Regions from separate parts of the Homo sapiens genome. Here region 2 is linked to region 1. Evidence: fine-mapped expression QTL. A gene starts in region 1. The other region holds a variant in brackets. All regions are shown on one strand. Distances are between the middles of the regions.

Region 1 (9,433 bases):
CAGCCTGGGTGAGCCAGGAGGCAGAGGTTTCAGTGAGCCGAGATCGCGCCACTGCACTCCAGCCTGGGCGACAGAGTGAAACTCTGTCTCAAAAAACAAACAAACAAACAAACAAAAGACTAAGAACCTTTTAAAGTTTTTGAGGGTGGAGATCATGTTTTGTGACCCATGCAGAGGCCTGTAATTGTTAACAACCAACTTCTACTCAGTCAAGTGTACAGAGGGGCTGACTACTGATGCTGTTGCTGCTGCTGCTGCTGCTGATGGTGATGATAATGATGATGATGATGATATGATGACACAGAATAATTTGTTTATAAAAGCACTTATCATATAGATGCATTTATTTGGGGAAGTATTATGATTATTTGAGCTCAACTTGAGGGCTTAGTTACAAATAAGCACCATGGTTTGCTACCTGTTTATTCCAGGAAGTTGCCTTGAAATTCAACAGTTAAGACAAAATTGATCCAATTGTAGAAAATTAAATAAAATACGTGAATGAATGAACTTGCCTTCAAATATGAAGAGGACACCAGACACTACCTCACAGGACTGTATGACAACTAAATGCTTTCATAGGGTTAAAGCACTTAGAAAAACACCTGATTCAATGTAAGTATTAACGTTATTATTAGGATGATTAATTGAAGCGCCTTCCACTCCCCCCCATCCCCCACCGATATCTTACAAGATGGAGCAGTTATGCAATTTCTGGGCAGACTGATGTAAGCATTGAAACTGACAAACCAAAACAACAGGAACAGTCAATAGTATAAGGCAGGAAGTTGGATCAGAAGGGAACTGAGGAAAGCAACAAGGAGATGCCATCTGGGGAACACCACGGCCACAGCAGCTATAGGGAGATATCCCTAGGAAACCAACATCTAATCAGGAGGTGACTTCCGAGAGCCTCAAAATGAAGACCCTGTAGAACATTAACACTTTTTTAAGGAGTGCGCTTCCATCTGGCAAAATAGGAACACTTGAAACTCTTCAAATCTGTGGACACTGATTAGTTTTATATTTTGATGTGTCCTAATTCTAATGTTTATTTCTGCAGTGTTCAGTATACAGATGAAATAGTATCATTTCATTTGATATCTGTAAGTTGGGAAACTAGCAGATAAAAAAACACTAGGAAGAAAATTAGATTAACTGAAATAATGTCACTCTACTATAAAATCTACTATTAGTAATAAAGTCCAAGCCTTTATAATCTTATTTTATAAGTGTTTGACTCTTCATAAGTATAACCTTATAAGCAGATTTCTTAATTTTATTTTACCTAAGCTGATTTTAAAAGTTGCTTGCCATCTCTCCTGTATACACAGAAGGGCCTGTACTCTTTAGGTAACAAGGAGAAGTTGACTTGAGAATTTTCTGAGAATAATCCAAAGTGACTAAGTAAAAGTTAACAACTGCCCTTGTGTTCTTTGTCATCAAAGAGGCCCATTATTGGGTATATAGTTTTGGCAAGGGTAGCTAAGTTTTGGCCCAACCAATGTATTTATACTAAAAAAATGAGATTGTAATTTTCCCTGTTTGTTAGTCATTGTACAATTTTTTAAATTTCTTGAGGTCAATGTCTATATGATACTTTGAAGCTAAAATGAGACTAGGGCTTCGGTAAAGCTGAAACATGGTAGAATGCAAAATATTATATTATTGTTGCATCTTCATTCATAGCAATAAATGGAAACTCAGTAAATATTAAGTTAATAAGTACAATCAAAGTCTTTCATGCGTATGTAAGAAGCTGAGAAAAAAAATACTTGTGACAAATTTTCAATTCAATAAATGCCTTTAGTATCTACATGTGCCAGGAAAGATGGAGAAGGAGCTCAGGTCTGTCAGCAAATAAGTACTTGAAACTAAGACAATGTGATTAATGTTATACTTACTCCAAGATCAAAGCATTGAGCAAATGCACACCAAAGAAACATTTAGTGGGGGCAGGGAGAAGATGGGAAGGCCTCCAAAAGGGTATGTTTCTTGAAGTCCGCCTTGAAAAATGATCAGAAGTTTTAAAAATAAAGAAGAATGCAATTAAAGAAACAGTTGCAGTGAAAAAAGGTGAAAGAGAATGGAACTTTCTGGTGGCTTGTGGTCTGGTGCACCAAAATGTGGGTTAGCAGTGGCGGGGGAGGGGATGGGGTAGTGGGAGGTTGAACAGAAGGAAGTGACAAGAAATAAGATTGGGGAAGTGGGTCGAGGCAAGTTTGTAAAGGCACACAATTCTTTAGTAAAATTATGCATTAATTTAAAAATAGTTCTTCAGCCCATTATTATATAAAACCTGCAATGGTATCTCTTATTTATAAAAATAAAAATGTTTGTAAATTTATTACAAAGTTTTTCTTCTCTCTCTCTCTCTCTTCTTTCTCTTGCTCTCTCTCTTTTATTCTCTCTTAAAACTGTGAGTGCCAAGATCTTGTTAGCTAGCTTCAGTAATAAAAGTCTATAATCACCTACCTCTGAGAAAAATATGCTGGCCTGGAAGGGAGGATCTGTAACACACACAGTCAGTAGGAGCCTGAAATCCTGGCCATCTACTGCCCCCCACCCCAACTGCCCAGTGACCTATGGCCGGTTCCTTCAATTATCTAGCCCATTCCTTATCTCTAAAGGTAGCTGAGAGGATTAAACGAGGTAATGCATAAAGAGTAGCTGCTTACACTACGTGCTCATAATTATTGAGTGCTATTATTAATTTCCTGTCCTCTCCAAGTTAAATGGTACTTTAACAACAAGTAAATGAGACTTTACTTGTTGGTCTTCCCTTCCCCAAAGGGTTCAGAGATAGAATTATAAATGAAGTTAAAGCACTGAAATTGTTTCCCAAATTACCAATTGTTTCAAGGCATAATTTACAAAAGAGACAAAAATTTAAATGCTACAAAGAAAAGGGTCTCTGGGATTGCTAAGGAAATGTCCTCCTAGGCACAACTCCATCCCACCACAGCAGTGCTTGTTCAAAGGGCAAGACCTAGAAGATTTTTCCCCTGATGTTCCTGGGGGTGAGCTAGAATGAAGAGGAATATCTTTGTAACATATGGGGTTGATGCTTTAGCAATGTAAACTTAACTTTAAACAGGGGACCTTTATATTTTGAATTAACTTTCGCATAGTTCTTTTTTATTCCTTCGTAAATATAAGAAAAATACTGACATTCCTTCACATTCGAATTTATTTTATTCTCATTAATAGTTTTACTTAAAATAAGACACAACATATTTTTAGTCTGTTCTTTTACGGGGTTCAAGTCCCTCTTATCTCAGTTTCACATTTTTGCTTGTTTGAAACTATTCAGGTGAGATGTGCAAAGTAACATTGGTGGTCACATTTTGCAGTTTCCAGAAATTCACATTTATAGGTAAATGATTAATTCTATTCAAATTTGTCTACACAGACATTCTTTAAACAATTATACTTAATAGAAACCAAACTTATGACAAATGTATGTAAATTCAAAATCAAGATGTGTGTGGATAAGCCACCTTTATTTGCTTACTGATAGTTCTGACAGAGTAATTTTAGAAAACAAGTTGCTGTGTAAAAGAAAAGTTCGGTTTTGATAAACATCCTGATTAATGTTCGCATTTCCAGTCTGAATGGCTTTTATAGTTATCATTTGTCAATGGTTCTTAGTGTTATGTGATAGTGGTAATTAAGTAAAAGCTTATACTACAAAATCCAAAGTGTCTATGTTTGGGCAGTTTCTGAAATAAATATCCCATATCAACTGTGTAAAAATTTCTATTGTAGATAAAAGCCTTTCTCCCAGAATTTGAGTGAATATTCATTGATATGGTCATAAGCATAACAAATAATTCAGACAATCCTACAAAAACACTACAATTAAGCATTATACAAATTGCTTTTATTTTTAGAGAACAAATGGAAAAGAGAAAACCTCTAATTCCATGTGGTTATAAAGCACACCCATTAAAAACCCTTGGCGCCAAAAATCACTCAAATAACCAGTATCACATTCAGTAACATATGACTCTAGATAATTTATCCACTAAAGTACTGTAAAGAAGTTTTTTAGAAAAACAGAACCGCAGGAACTAAAATTAAACTACCCCCATTGGGCCAATAAGCCATACAATCTAAATTATCAATACGCGCTTTTCCTGAAAACATTTTAAAGAAGATAAAATCACAGTAAATAGCCTCCGTGAAATAGAGCAATAGAAATAAACCAGAACATGGTTTGGTTTTAAAAGGAAAAAGAAACCTTAATTTTGGGCAGGGGTGATAACTGCAGATAAGTTGAGAAGAACCCAGCCCAGAGAGCCGAGGTGCTCCATCTTGGATGGCCACGCGAGGTGGCGGCAGATGTCCTGGCCAGTTAGACAGTGGCAGGAATCACAGAGGTCTCAGGTGACATGCTCAGATCTCTGGTCCCCTGAAGGCAAAACCCACAATCCACAGAAACAGTGCCGAAGTGCATCACAAGCGCTTAAAACCAACAAAAACACATGAAGAACATTTACCTTGCAGGAAAAAAGCTGTCCTTGGTAGTACTGGTGTATGACCAGGAACCCCTTCTTTCTGATCTGCAGAACAGCTTTGTCAAGCCTGGGTGTGTGGTCACAAGGCAGGAAGTGACTAGAATGACAAATCATCAGCCAGGAAAGAAAAAGATTTTGTCTTTATAAGGACATTTTAACTTTTTTTTCATGTCCCCGCCCCACCAAAAATCACCTGACAGAACAGGTCACAGTGAAATTCAGACACCTCCTACCACTTCCTCTTTTTTTTTTTTTTTTTTGAGACAAGGTCCCGCTCTTTTGCCCACCTCTTTATAAGCATTTTTCTCTCTCCCTTTCTCCTCCAGCTGTCTTTGAGTAGTCCCTGGGCTACTTAAACCTTTCTGATTCTAGATAGCAAGGCAAGATCAGCCTGATAACTTGACTTCTTTGACTCTAGTTGCAAAAGCAAAGCCCAGATGCCTACCTACTTACAGCAAAGATCAACAAATTTTTCATTTTTAGTGAAAGAGCCAGGGAAAAAGGTGGCAGTACACCTGAAACAAATGAAAAGGGACTTCCTTGGGAAAGCCCCACCCCACCTGAAATCAAACCTCTCTGGAGTCCTCTAACAGTGATCTTATTGGTGCAAACAAAACAGAACGATCTCTTTAAGTGAAGGACATGAAAAGGAAGGTTACTAGATTATTTACTCATTCTTTTATTTATAGAACATCTATGTGCTAGGGATCTCTTTAACCCAATTAAGTATCTCAATTATTTAAGCGTTTCCTATAAAGAGCAGCAGTAGATTGCACAGGCAGCTGTTATATTTAAATGGGTAGCTTAATTCCTTCTTACAGGCAGGATTTTTTTTTGAATGCACATTTTATAAAATTAGCAGGTGGTGGCAGGGGAAGCTCTGTTCTGTACCCAAACCCCAGATGCTTGAGGGCAAATTCCTATCTTCAAATGGAGCATCCTCAAGTGCTCACAACAGTTGTGAAGACTGTGGCACCCTGAGTTATGTTGACTAAATATTAGACATGTCTCCACATTGCCCGGAGACTGTGTGTGACTCCAGTAGTCAATCTGCCGTTTAGGAATGAGGGTATGTGGCTGTACTCCCAGGTCAGATGCTGCGCTGAAGATATCTGCTCCAGAGTTGACATGCGTCCGTGTCCGCTGGGCCACGGGCCTCTCAGGTGGTCACGGTATTCTGACTGGTTGGAGGGCTGCCCTTATACTTCTTTTGCTTTTTTGATTTCTCCTCTAGAAAGTTCCTGTTTCTGACCTTAAATGTTAAACCAAACTGTTCTGGTTTATCTACTTCATTAGCCAGTGGTGTGGTGACTTCATCAGAAGCCCACAGGGGCTATCTTGAGGAACTGGGTGGGCGGAAGAACAGGACGAGACGGTGGGGATTCTAGAAACGGTTCACCTCACAGAGAGCTATCAGCCCTCTTGTGATTTCCCAGGGAAGACTGAGGGGGTGATGGGACTCTGTTTTCTCCATCGCATAATCACTCCCAATTAATAAGTTGCAGAGAGCTTTCAAGAAGCACCTACATTCTTTCAGGACACCAGAGGAACATCCATGCATCACTGTTACAGCACTGCTCACGCTACAAAGCAGCAAAATGCTGTCTTCATTCGGGGCCCTGCAGCAGGACTCTGTAGATAATGTCCTGCTGGTGTTACAGATACAAGGGGTTGTAACTGTGGACCTCCCTGATCTGGTTCCACATCCTGGTGGCTTCAGGATGGCATAAAGGCCCAACAGTAACACTTCATGAAGGGGAACAGATATTTATTCCTTTACCTTGGAGAAGGAAAGCACAGTGTTCTGTATCTAGTGGTGCCTGGTCATCTGAGGCCGGAGGAATCTATGAAGAAGAGCAAAATATATTTGTGCATTGGTTCAGCAAGTGTTTGCATGCCTGTCTGAATTGGTGATTCAGAAATAAATAAGACACAATCGCTGTTCTCAAGGAGTATAGTCTAGTGGGGAAAAAACATGTAAGTAAATAAATGCCATCTATAATAGAGGGGTGAAAAAGGCAGTGTGATATCAAAGCAGTTGCAGATTTGAGCAGAGGTGATGTTTGTTAAGTGAAGAAAAAGATTTAGGATTCCAGGCAACGTCGAGGTTGTAGAAGATGAAAGGCATTGACCTGGGTACTGCTTACAGCCACCCAGTTAATAGAGTCGTCTTCTACCCTAGCATCCACGGCAGGCACCCACACCCCCTCAGCCACATCCTGGCCGGCACCATTGCAAGCCCTGCCCTACTCCCTCAATCTTAATCTCTTTATCTGCCTCTCATTGGTGTAAGTCTACCCAGTTTCAGGCAATTGTTTAGGTCCTAGACCAAGACTTTTTCAGAGAAGTGTATTTTTTTGCTGTTGGTGTTTTAAATTGCTTGTGCAGCATAGTACTAGTAAACAGAAGACTGACTTTTGGTTTTCTTACGTTTTTATGTTCTGTACAGACAGTGCGCCCCCTTATGGCCTGAAGCCGGAGTGGACCTTTCTCAGCCCACCCTCTATGAGCCTCCACTGCCACCTGTTCCTGGCCTGGGTTTTGCCTTCCTCTAAGCCCTACCACCCTCTCAGACTTCATCCCACCCTCTCCTGCCCTGAAGCCTCTGGCCTCAGTCCCAGATATCAGATCACCTGCTACTCTCAGGCCTCTAAATATTGCTGAGGAAAGTCACAGAAACACAAACTTGGAATGCTAAAAAGTCAAGATGCTTGACTTCAAATTACTTTCAGAAATACTTCTATTCAATTTTACTAAGTCTTGAGAACAGGCATTCTCAACCTGGAGTCCATAGACCCCTAAAACTAAATGCACAATTTTGTGTGTATGTACTTTTTTTCTGGGAGAAGGGTCCATTGTATTAGTAAAGAGATCACAGACCCCAAAAAGTTGGGTATTTATTCTAAACTCTCTCCTCTTGCCTCAACCTTCCACTTCACCCTCCTATGCTTTGTCCTGGCCCAAGATTCTTCTGTTGCCCCTTCTTGACTGAGATGATCCAAGTCGTCTGGTATGAGCTTCCTCTCTACTTCCACAATATCCACCTCTTCCTCCTCTCTTTCAGTCTTAATGGAAGCGGCATTCTTCTTTCTTCCCAAGGTCAGTGTTTCAACACTATCTCACTCTTAATATTCTACTTCCTTAGATATCTTGCTCCATCAATTGTCTCGTGTTTCTCTAGCATCTTAATGCTAGCATCTTCAGCTCTCCCCACTTCCTCTCCATGCACTCATGGGATTTGTATGAAGAGAAAAACACCTTTGCTTCACTCTGCAGCCCACCCTCATCCCAACATATCATGGGCAGGGAATGAAGATGAATTAAGATGGGTACAGTCCTTGCCATTGTAGAATGTCCACTGTAGTTGAAGACACAGACAAGGAAAAAAGGCAAGTGAAGAGTTATCTACTTGGAAGCACAACAGACGAAAAGCAGCGTCCCTAGGAGCACACAGCACTAACCCAGACATGGGACCTGGGAGGCAGAGAGAGGGAGCATCAAAGTGGTGAAGAGTAAAGATGCTGGGCCAGCTGGCTGGGGTCAAGTTCCAGCTCTACTGTTGTACTAGCTGTGTGATCTTGGGCAAATTAGTTACTTGCACTGGCCTCAGTTTCCTAGTCTATAAAATGGGGGTAAGAACAGTGTCTATTTTAGACAGTTGTTGCAAGGGGTAAGTGAATTGATATATGTAAAGAACTTAGAAGAGTGCCTGGCACGTAGTATATCCTATGTACGTGTTAACTAATCGCTTAATATTTACGTCAGGCTCTGGACTAGACCCCTAACATCCATTATTTCATTTATTCCTCACAACAACTCTATGAATTAGGTATGATTGTTAATTTTTTTCTTTAATTTTTAAAATAATGGCTTCATTGCAATATGATTTACATACCATAAAATTCACCTTTAAAAAGTATACAATTCAGTGGTTTGTTGTATTTTAACAGAGTTGTGCAACAATTACACTATATAATTCCAGAACATTTTCATCATCCCCAAAAGAAACTCTGTACCTGTTAGAGATTCCTCCCCATTCACCCCCATCTCCCAAATTCCCAGCCACAGCCAACCACTAGTTTATTTTCTCTCTCTATAAATTTGCCTATTCGGGACATTTCATATAAAGGGAATTACACAATACATGCTCTTTTGTGACGAGCTTCTTTCACTTAGCATGTTTTCAAGGTCCATCCATGTTGTAACATGTCACTACTTCATTTTATTATTTATTCATTTATTTTGAGATAGGGGCTCACTCTGTCGCCCAGGCTGAAGTGCAGTGGTGTGATTATAGCTTGCTGAGGCCTTGAACTCCTAGGCTCAAGCCATCCTCCCGCCTCAGCTTCCTGAGTAGCTGGGTCTACAGGCACGCACCATCACACCTGGATATTTAAATTTTTTTTTTTTCTATAGAGACAGGGTCTTGTCATGTTGGCCAGGCCGGTCTCGAATTCCTGGGCTCAGGTGATCCTCTTGCCTCGGCCTCCCAAAGTGCTGGGATTACAGACATGAGCCACTGCACCTGACCTTCACTCCTTTTTATGGAAGAATGCTATTCCACTGTATGAATATATCACATTTTATTTACTCATCAGCTGATGGATATTTGGATGCTGCCTACTATTTGATATTATAAAAATGCTGCAATTAACATTTGTGTACATTTTGTGCGTGTGGACATATGTTTTCTTTAATTTATTAATCAAAGTAATATATGTATTTGGTTTTAGAAGTCAAATATTACCTCAAGGCTTCTCATGAAACACCAGTCTCCCGACACACTCCTTCACCTCTGATTCCCATTCCCTAGAACCAAGTATTTTGAACAGTTTTAGCTAATTCTTCTGTTATTTTATTACATATTTCTAGATGTTATGCTTATGGTGTATCTTGATTGGGTTCAGATACCT
Region 2 (9,433 bases), 32 kb before region 1:
AAGCAGCTGAAATGGGTGATTTGTGGGCTTGATATATAGATTTGGGAGTCAACAAAATACACACAACCCCCTGACCATAATTCAGCAAATGACACCAATGCAGGAGTGTTGGAGCACGATTATGCTGCATTTCTAGTGAGAGTAAAGCACTGTGGAAAAGGATCAACTCATACTTCAAATCTGAATCTCCTTGCTTGGGTGATATTCATTTAATATTAGTTGACCTTTGTCTCAATATTGGGACTAGTTCATGATTTTTTTAAAAAAGTCAAGTAAACATCTCCAGCACCTCTACCTGGTAGAACGTAATTAAAGCTATATGCTTTTTGTTGAATCTTAGAGCATTAACCTGAAAAATACAACTGTTAGGGATTCTGCCTCAAAATACTTTTCTGTGGCTCCCGTAAGAAACAAAAGAAAACCAAAAACTCAGTAAGCATATCCCAGCATACCTTAAATATCATTTTTTGGAAATGGATGGTGGCAATTTCTTGTCTCTAGGAATCAACACAGTCCATTAAGTACGTAAATTATCTTTTTGAAACTCAGGATTTATTTCATCTAATAACTAAATGCATTATCTTTCCTAAAACATTTAATTCTGATAATGGATGAACGCTTTGTTAATGGACGTGATAGAATGGTATTTGATTATTCCTGCTTGGCTGAAATTGACTTGATGAATCTATTTATTCTCTTTGTTGCATACCAGAGAATTAATGGCCTGTTTGCACATGTAAATAGTTTATATTTGCTTAGGAAGTGAGTTTGAATTGCCATTGAATTAGAATTGTGAGTGCCTTTCCCCATCTTAGGCAAATCGTTTACAGTTACCTTCAAGAGCCCCCCAGTCAATGTCCTGGTTCTCTGGTTTGTGCAGGGCAGGGTATCTGTTAAAGAGGTTGGCAATAAAAGCCAAGTTCAACTTGGGGTTCCCTCGGACAACATCTGTGGCTGTGACAAACTGCCGGCAGCCCAGCCTCTCCGCCTGCTGCAGCATGCATTCTGCCCTCTGGATGTCATCCTTCTCCTGCAATGCAAAAGGATGTCTCAGGGCTGGGTCAAGGCTCTCCATGCACAAAGCAGATTGCATAATGTGAAAAGAAATGGGAATCTCACTGAAATCATTAGTGTTTATCTCAGGCAGACACTTAATAACAGCACATTATTGCCTATATGCACCTGCACCAAAATCAGAAAGTCACAAGTAAAAGGAATCTCAGAGGTTAAGTAACAAGGATCTCTCATCTCCTTTATCAAACTATTTCAGATGAGTGGTTGGTTGCTCTGTTTCAAAAGAGATGCAGTAGATTCTGAAAACTGATCATTTGAGTTTATCTTAATTATTTCCAACCATTAAGATTCCTTTTTATTATTTGTGTGCACAGATGACATGAGATTGTCTATCAAAAATTTTATTTATTAATTTATATTCCCATAACCAGTTCACAAAAGATATTTACACTTGCCAGTAAGAACATATGATTAGCATAACCACTGTCTCCACATTGAGTTGGTATACTTGCAACCCAAATAAAATAAATTTTATCAGTTAACCTATGTATTATTATTGATAAATATATAATATCAATTTTATTTTTGCAGACTTCAGATTTTGAACCACTCAATGTGCTCAAATAATTCTAGAGAATCTCTAGCCATTTGTAAGTGACTCTTAACCCTAAAATTTTGCTGAAATATGGCCCACTGTCCTTAAAGTACATGAAACCACCAATTTTCAGAAAACAAAACTTTAAATTAGGATGATTTCTTAATATGACCCTTTACTAGATAACGCTACACATTATGCATTTCATGAGCTTTACTTGTCATTTACTTTTACTCTACTTCTCATTAGGAATCAGTTGACTTCAACATGAACTCATTGGATTTAACTCCAGTGATATTAAATGAGGCACAGAAACGGGCAAAGAGACTTCTCAAGATCAGTATTAAAGTGGCGGCAAAACAGAAGTTTTATTATAACATTCAGACCCATGTGGGGTTATAGAGTCTACTAAATGATGAACATATATAGAATTGCCTAGCATGCTGGATGGTGTTTAATTACTATTGGTTTCTTTCTTTAATGTTGTATTTCCAGATTCAGTTTTCATCAATTATTATCCCAAACTGCTCACAGTTTTACCGTTTTAACAGGGCTTTAGGCAGAAATGCCCAGTCATGGAACTCCAGAATCAGGGCCACACAAGGTAATGGAACTGCCAACATGAAAATAGCATCATATTCTCCAAACACAACTGGGACCTGGCCTTACCCGCAGTCCTGACATGTCAATAACAACAGCAGGAACACCTTCTTCATCTCCTTTTGGAGCCACCTGCTCAAGCAGGTGGTAATAAGCTTTTGAGTCCTGTGAGAAATTAAGAAATTCCAATTTCAAAATAGCACAGCTAATTACATACTTAGCATAACAATGATTTCCCAAAAGCAAACATTTTATTTCATATTCAGCTATCATTCCAGAATGTAACTTAACAAAGCTAGAAACATTCACTAATTTGAATGTTCTATTTGTCTCTTTACATATCACATTTGCTTTTCTTTTTAAAAGGAGCGTAACAATAAAATAGACAAGATATACACAAAAGGCACCCTAAAGAAGTGGATATTATTCTGTTGTCTTTAGGGGAGAAAAACAACTTATTTACATGAATTAAATTGTATACAGGAAAATATATATATACCTTTATATTGCTGTAGAAGTCAGTCAGCTAAGGTTTAATTAAAAAAAAGTGACAGAAAAAGGAAGCACAAGTTTAAAGCGAGTTTAAAATACATTTAAATGGACAATCAGCAAGAGAAAAAGATGTCAAAGACAGAAGATTGAAGCATTAACAAGCAATCTTTACGTAAAAGGAGAAATATTAAGAAAAGTGCATTTCATATTTATCTAGAAGCTAGAAAAATGGTTCAATTTAGTTATAGCAGATTAGATACAGGTATTGAATTCTCAAGTTTTCTTAGATTCTGAAAATATGCTTATTGACAAAAAGAATTCTCAGAATTATAGTCTTAAAATATAAATTTATTCTTAGTCAATGAAAGCATACAGATTTTCAGGTAGTTTATTTAAATCATTTAATAGCATCTCAATTTCTCATAAAGATCGAAAAATCAGCTATTATTTTGTTTCTACAACTGGTTAGGGTAGGTAAGGCCTGGGCAGAGGAGAGGTATGCTCACCACTTTTGGCATTAGAAAGAGGAGAACCAGAGAGTGTGAATCATTGATGTTGCACCTGGGGAAAATGATCTTCATCTCCCTTCTATCTACCCTCCCTTCTCTGACTTTTCACTGTAGCTATTTTGAAGTCAGTGAAAGTCACATGCAGGTGTCAGGCACCAATACCATCTGCCTGCCC[T/C]GGGTTACATCTTTTTAGTTTGGCTAAGAGTAACCTCATTTCACCTGACTCTCATGAACCTTCTCACTCACTCTAGCCTGGGTGTTCTCCTCGCCTTTGCCAATTTACACGATTTAAAGACATCTCCCAAGGTTGCTGGCTGGCTACTCAGACATACACATGACAGCACGGAGTCAGTTGCCATGCAGCGGCTGCCAGAGAACAGGCACAACACTGTATAAGTAAGTGCTCATCTGGCCAGCTCCTATCTCATACAGACACTTCCCAAAGCACAAAATGGTGGTTCTAGAGAACACAGCCATTTAATGACAGGAAATTAGGTAAATTTACAGCTGAGATCTGACAGCCTAATTTTGTCTGAAAAGTTTTGCAATTGCAGAGCTTAACTGTTGAGCACAAAGGGAGAGCATGACAGCCAGCTCCTGTTAAAACCCAGGTCGGTTGGTGGTGCTAGAAGAATGTTAATAGCCCATGAAAGATGCATAGTTAGAAAGATGGATTTAGCTTAGATCCTAAAAAATGGGGGCTTTCCATCTAGAAGCTTGACTCTGACTGGCACAGTGCCTGACACACGCTGAGTTCTAAATGCCACTGAATGCACGTCATATAGCAGTGGGAAACTGTTACTCAAAGAATTACAAGCCTAGGTGTACTCCTGTTGAGTCATGTGAACTTTCCTCTGACTCTTTCTCTTTGGGGAAAAGTTATTTAATGTTTGAGAAAGTGGAGACTGAAGTATTTTCCTGGTGTTGCATCCCAGCATCTCCTACTCTTTCCTTCTAGGGACCGCTTTCCATTCCTTTCTGCTCCTTAACCACTTTCTATCTTCATCCATCTGTCATCATTGCCAATAGCTGTTTTCTTTCACCTTGACAGGGAACTTTTCATATACTTGAAAACCACAGTGTATTCCTGCCTCAGCCTTTCCCCTATGGACCTCTTTGTCTCTTTATCTGTAAAATGAGAGGATAATAACCCTTACCTCATGGGGTTGTTGTAAGGATTCAATAAGAGAATACACATATAAATCAGTTAGAACAGTGCCTGGCATGTTGCAGACACCATGTTTGCTGTTATTAGTATAACTAGAAGAGTCATCTTCATTTAATTTTTTACAGGGAATTCCCATCTGCTGCTCCCATTTATGAAACCAGAGACATTACAGACCTACATATATTCCCTTTACTTGGACAGCAGACTGTTCTCTTGCTCTTCCTCTAGCTCACCTTTGTCCCTCTACTTCCTGATATGGAAACTCCAATCGAGACACTGCACTAGGACTCTGGGCAGGTCTGTGTATGGCCCAGGACTAGAGCAGCAGATGGGCTCTCAAGGACAGTGAGCACCTCCAAAACAGCACCAGACTACCCTGGAACTTCTGAAGAGAGGAAGCCCCAAATCTTTATCTTTTCTTTATTATTGCCCAAATTCCCCTTCACTCCTGCAGAGAGTCATGTTCAAACAACGCTCCTCCTACCTTGATGTCAGTACTGAAGTTGCCAATTTTGTTGCAGCCTGCATTTTCCAGGTGGTAATTAGCCCACCTCAGCAAGAGCTCTTCAGGGGAGAGTTTCATCAAATCCTCCAGGCTCTCACCTTCTCTCAAAAGAGCAATCAGAGCTGAAGAAGCACAAAAACCACAGAAAAATAAATGCAGCGATGTTGGGGGAGGGGGGTTGGTTATAACTTTCATTAAGCTCTGCTAAAAAGCTAAAGATAACAACGTTACCTCTTTGGGGTAAAGGTTCTTGTAGCCTTTCCCATGGATTAAATATTTTATTATTATTCCCTAAAAAGAGGCGTAAGCCATTGTGAGCTTATTTATTATCTCCATTTTCCAGATGGAGAAAACAAAGCACAGTGAATCTCAACGCTATGTTTAAGAACATTTGGGCAGAGCCATAAAAATAACCAAGGCTACTGGCTCGGATGTTTTGCTGGGTCTGTCAAACCACATTTCACAATATGACAACATTTTTGCTTTTAAGAGATCAATTTTGTAATAATAACAATGTTCTCTTGTCTATTCCCATAGGTGTTTTATATTTCAAGTGCTTACCTGCCTAATTATAGCAACTCAACAATGTAATCAACTCTCCTCTACGTTTTCCCAGATGAGTAAGTATTTTTTTGCTCAGCTAGAAGGTTTAAATTTAGCTGAGGTCATTATTTGAAGATCAATATTCTTTCTCACAGGTTCTAAGATCCCTATTTCCTCTCCCCCGCCTTCTTTATATTATGTTTAATACATTGGTTTTTAAATAATATTTCAGGATTTTTCATTGGTTATTGTGATTTGGACATATAAATAAAAAAGTATGTATAACTAAAGATTAGAACTTGACTACAGATTTCATATTGGTAGGATTTGTACCTGATAACTAAAAGATAACATCGTGTTTTGCATGATACTTATCAAGGTGGGCTACCTCTGTCTAAGCCAGGGGGCTGTCACTGTTTACATACAGATAAGATGGTGAGAGAAGACGCAATAAGATTGACAGCTACATATTTAGTTGAGAACTCTGAAACCCTAAATGGAATTTTCTACGGTCTTTAAAAATGTTTATTCTAGCCTGCATAGATTTAAGGTGTGTAACGTGATGTTTTGGTATACTTATCTTGGTAGACACATACACAGTAAGGTGGTTACTGTTGGTCAAGCAAATTAACATACTCACATCTCATATCGTTACCTTTCTTTTTCTTTCTTTCTTTCTTCATTTCTCTCTCTATCTCTTTCTTTCTTTCTTTTTTGTAGGAAGAGTGCCTGAAATCTACTTTCTTGGCAAATTACCAGTATACAGCACAATATTATTAACTATAGCCCTCGTGCTGTTTAGATCTCCACTTATTCATCCCATATAATTGCAACCTTGAACCCTTTGACCTATACCTTCCTCTATAGTTTTGATAAGAAATAGACCAAGTTCCTCCTAATCTGGTACCTTCACTATAGTATATGAATGTGAGTTGCTTACTTCGCAAAGTGCAAGTTAAAAGTCCTCTTATTTGTTACAAATATCTAAAGGCAAAGTGAGCTCTGAAAAAACCTCTTGAGGTTAGAGTGCCAAACATTCAAGACTGAGCCCTATGCTCCAAACAAACATTATTGTTAGTCTATGGTCTTAAAAAGCTTTTGCTCTATCATTAAAAAACGTCTGGTCTGTGTGTATAGAATCTGTGACATGAATACCATGGAATCAATATAACTGTGTAGTTTTCAAAACTTGAGAATTTCTGACATCTTCCTCCTACAGTCCCCAACGCGTAAGTTATTAGAAAGCTGTGTCATAAATGACCTTTGGGACTTGCTCTTACCTTCATTTCTGCTGAGTTCAATGTCAGCAAACAACCCAATCTTGATGACTTGCCACAGAAGTCCCAGGACCAGATAAGGCTTCCCCTCCTTCAGGTCCTCAGCCCCTATGTTGACCACATGGCACCCGATGGCTGAGGCAGAGTTCAGAGCCAAGTTCAGATTTTCCTGAGGGAGAAAATGTATGCAAGTTTTTGTTCTATGACTTTGTAGATGCCAAATAATACCGATGGCAACAGTAACAATGTTTTCCTTCTGCGAAGGTCACAGGTTTAGAGTCATGGTCTTCACTCATTTTAACATTGAGAAAAAAACAGTGACTCATAACCAGAAGAGAAAATCCAGTAACCCAGACACCGACCACTCATGCAGTGGTCCATTCAATCAAACCAGCACCATAAGTTGAAGGCCCATTCTGGTTGGCATGAGACTGATGAGGCCTATATTTTTCCATCTTGCTCTGTGATGAAGCTGACACACAAAACATCTCTATTGGCCAAAAATAAAGGGACACCTTTGAGAAAGTCATTGTCCTGTCACTGGCCATCATGAATAAGACAATTGTTGATGTAAATCAAGATCATAAAAGAGAGTAGCAGAAGAGCTTTTTGACTTGAAGATTGGGTGTTAAGAAAATGAAAAGGCTGGCACGGTGGCTCATGCCCATAATCCCGGCACTTTGAGAGGTCAAGGCGGGTGGATCACCTAAGGTCAGGAGTTTGAGACCAGCCTGACCAACATGGTGAAACCCCATCTCTACTAAAAATACAAAAATTAGCTGGGCATGGTGGCAGGTGCCTGTAATCCCAGCCACTCGGGAGGCTGAGGCAGGAGAATCTCTTGAACCCAGGAGGCAGAGGTTGCGGTGAGCTGAGATCATGCCATCACACTCCAGCCTGGGCGACAAGAGTGAAACTCCATCTCAAAAAAAAAAAAAAAGAAAACGAAAATGAAAAATAGATACGATTAAAATTCCTGGAAAAGATGGAATGGTTTTTGCTAGGTTGATTTGTTGAGTATCTGTAATAACTAGGGAACCTGAGTATACACACACATACTCATAGATTCTATGTTCTTATGAGTAACAACAATGCAGGTAATGTAACTCACATATAGTCGAGATAGAGTCAAGGGAGTTTTCAGTCCAGACTCTGTATGTACTATTCTTGAGTTTAAAAAGGAAGAGATATCAATGTCAGAGATGTATAGAAATTGTTTTAATTGGCAAATTAAAAACAAAGCAAAGGCCGCCAGTGAATTAGGAAAAGAACTATCAGAAGAAAAGTGGGTCCTTGTTCTAGTGCTTAAATGATGAGTGAAAAATACTGTTTCTATATATGGTCAAGATTATGAGTAAATTTAACATTAAGTGCATTCATATGTGTTTAATCATTGTTCTCAATTTGGTTACCATTTCCATTTTTAAAGTACACAAGGTTGCTTAAATCCACACAGGAGATAATGTATCGTTCATGATTTAAGAAGTTAGATATGGTTTCTTAGCAAAAGAATTATGATAATGTTAAAATATTGGAACACAACACAGAAATACACTTACTGCTGGTTACTATTCCAGTTAATCAACAAATTGATGGAATAAAAGCAAGTTATATTTATTATACTCGTGGCTGTGGCCAAAATTACTATGAAGGCTGCCAGAGTACTTCCCGTTTTTCACCCCCTCGCTTCTTAGAAAGGCTTATGTTTTCATCTAAAATGCTGTTTATTTGGCATCAAATCAAAGATAAATTGCTAAGGAAAGCTTGAGTTAAAACTTTAGCCAAAGTGAATTTTATTCCTAAGTGGCCAAAACAAACATACAAAGCCCCAGCTGCTACCACTCCACCAGTCTCCCTTCTTTGCTGCTCAGAAATGTATCCCTTTATCCCTGAAGTATGACAAGTCACCAGCCCAAAGCCTGGGTTTTGCGAATGATGTCTGAGCCCCTGAAAAAGGCGGACTCAGCAGTTATGATGCTCATTGATGCCAAACAAATCCTGTATTATGGTAACGGTGGGAAGACATACCTGAATGGTGAAAGGGGTTAGCTTCTTTTTGTTGATTGTTCTTTCATCAATTGTGTCTGGCACTGACAGGTTGATCATTTTACTGAAAGAGAAACAATTAAATTAAAGAAAGCAGTCTTCTGAATAACAGAGCCCAGTAACGTTGAATTTAAATTCTAGCAATACCATAATCAAAGAAGATAGCAACAGAATCTGTGATGTTTAGATATAAAATCAGTTATGCCGTTTGACTAGACTCAAACTATCTGCGGGAAAGGTGAATACTACTGAAGCCACATTCATATATTGAGGTTGGAAATGAGGACCCCACTTCATTCTCCCACCTAAACAGCTGCAAAATTATCCTGATTTTCTTAGCACATTAGGAAATTCTGGGTGGATAACCAAAGTAATTCTACCATAAGTACTTTATTTTCTTAGCCATGAAAATTGTCCCCATTATATAAAAGACTGTCTACAAAATTCTGAGCTTATTATTGTCTACATTTCTATTTGACACAGGACCAAACTTTGTATCTTCAGCTAATCATATGATAACATTTTTATATCCTTCTCAGTGCCCTAGGCTGAGTACCAATGAGTCACAGGGGTCTTAGAAGGTAAAACTAGCAGATTGGGGGAAGACCATGGGGTGCCTTGGGTGGCAACCTAAAAGCTAGAATTTTGATTTTTTTATAGCAATTGAACCTTTTAAAAATGAAT

What was found.
Region 2: its variant is fine-mapped to the expression of LCP1 in whole blood (INTERVAL, PIP 0.94).

The regions. Positions count from the first base shown.
Region 1 is chr13:46,177,609-46,187,041 of GRCh38, forward strand. LCP1 (lymphocyte cytosolic protein 1) reads right to left here and starts at 4,569. Exons shown (of 16, transcript NM_002298.5): 1 at 4,503-4,569. RefSeq lists an enhancer at 4,232-4,661.
Region 2 is chr13:46,146,074-46,155,506 of GRCh38, forward strand. LCP1 (lymphocyte cytosolic protein 1) reads right to left here. Exons shown (of 16, transcript NM_002298.5): 6 at 8,732-8,813; 7 at 6,707-6,872; 8 at 4,863-5,005; 9 at 2,279-2,374; 10 at 835-1,030. Among named protein-coding and RNA genes, the nearest start is that of LCP1, 31 kb to the right of the region's middle. RefSeq lists an enhancer at 3,923-5,122. The variant T/C (reference allele first, on the strand shown) is at 3,386.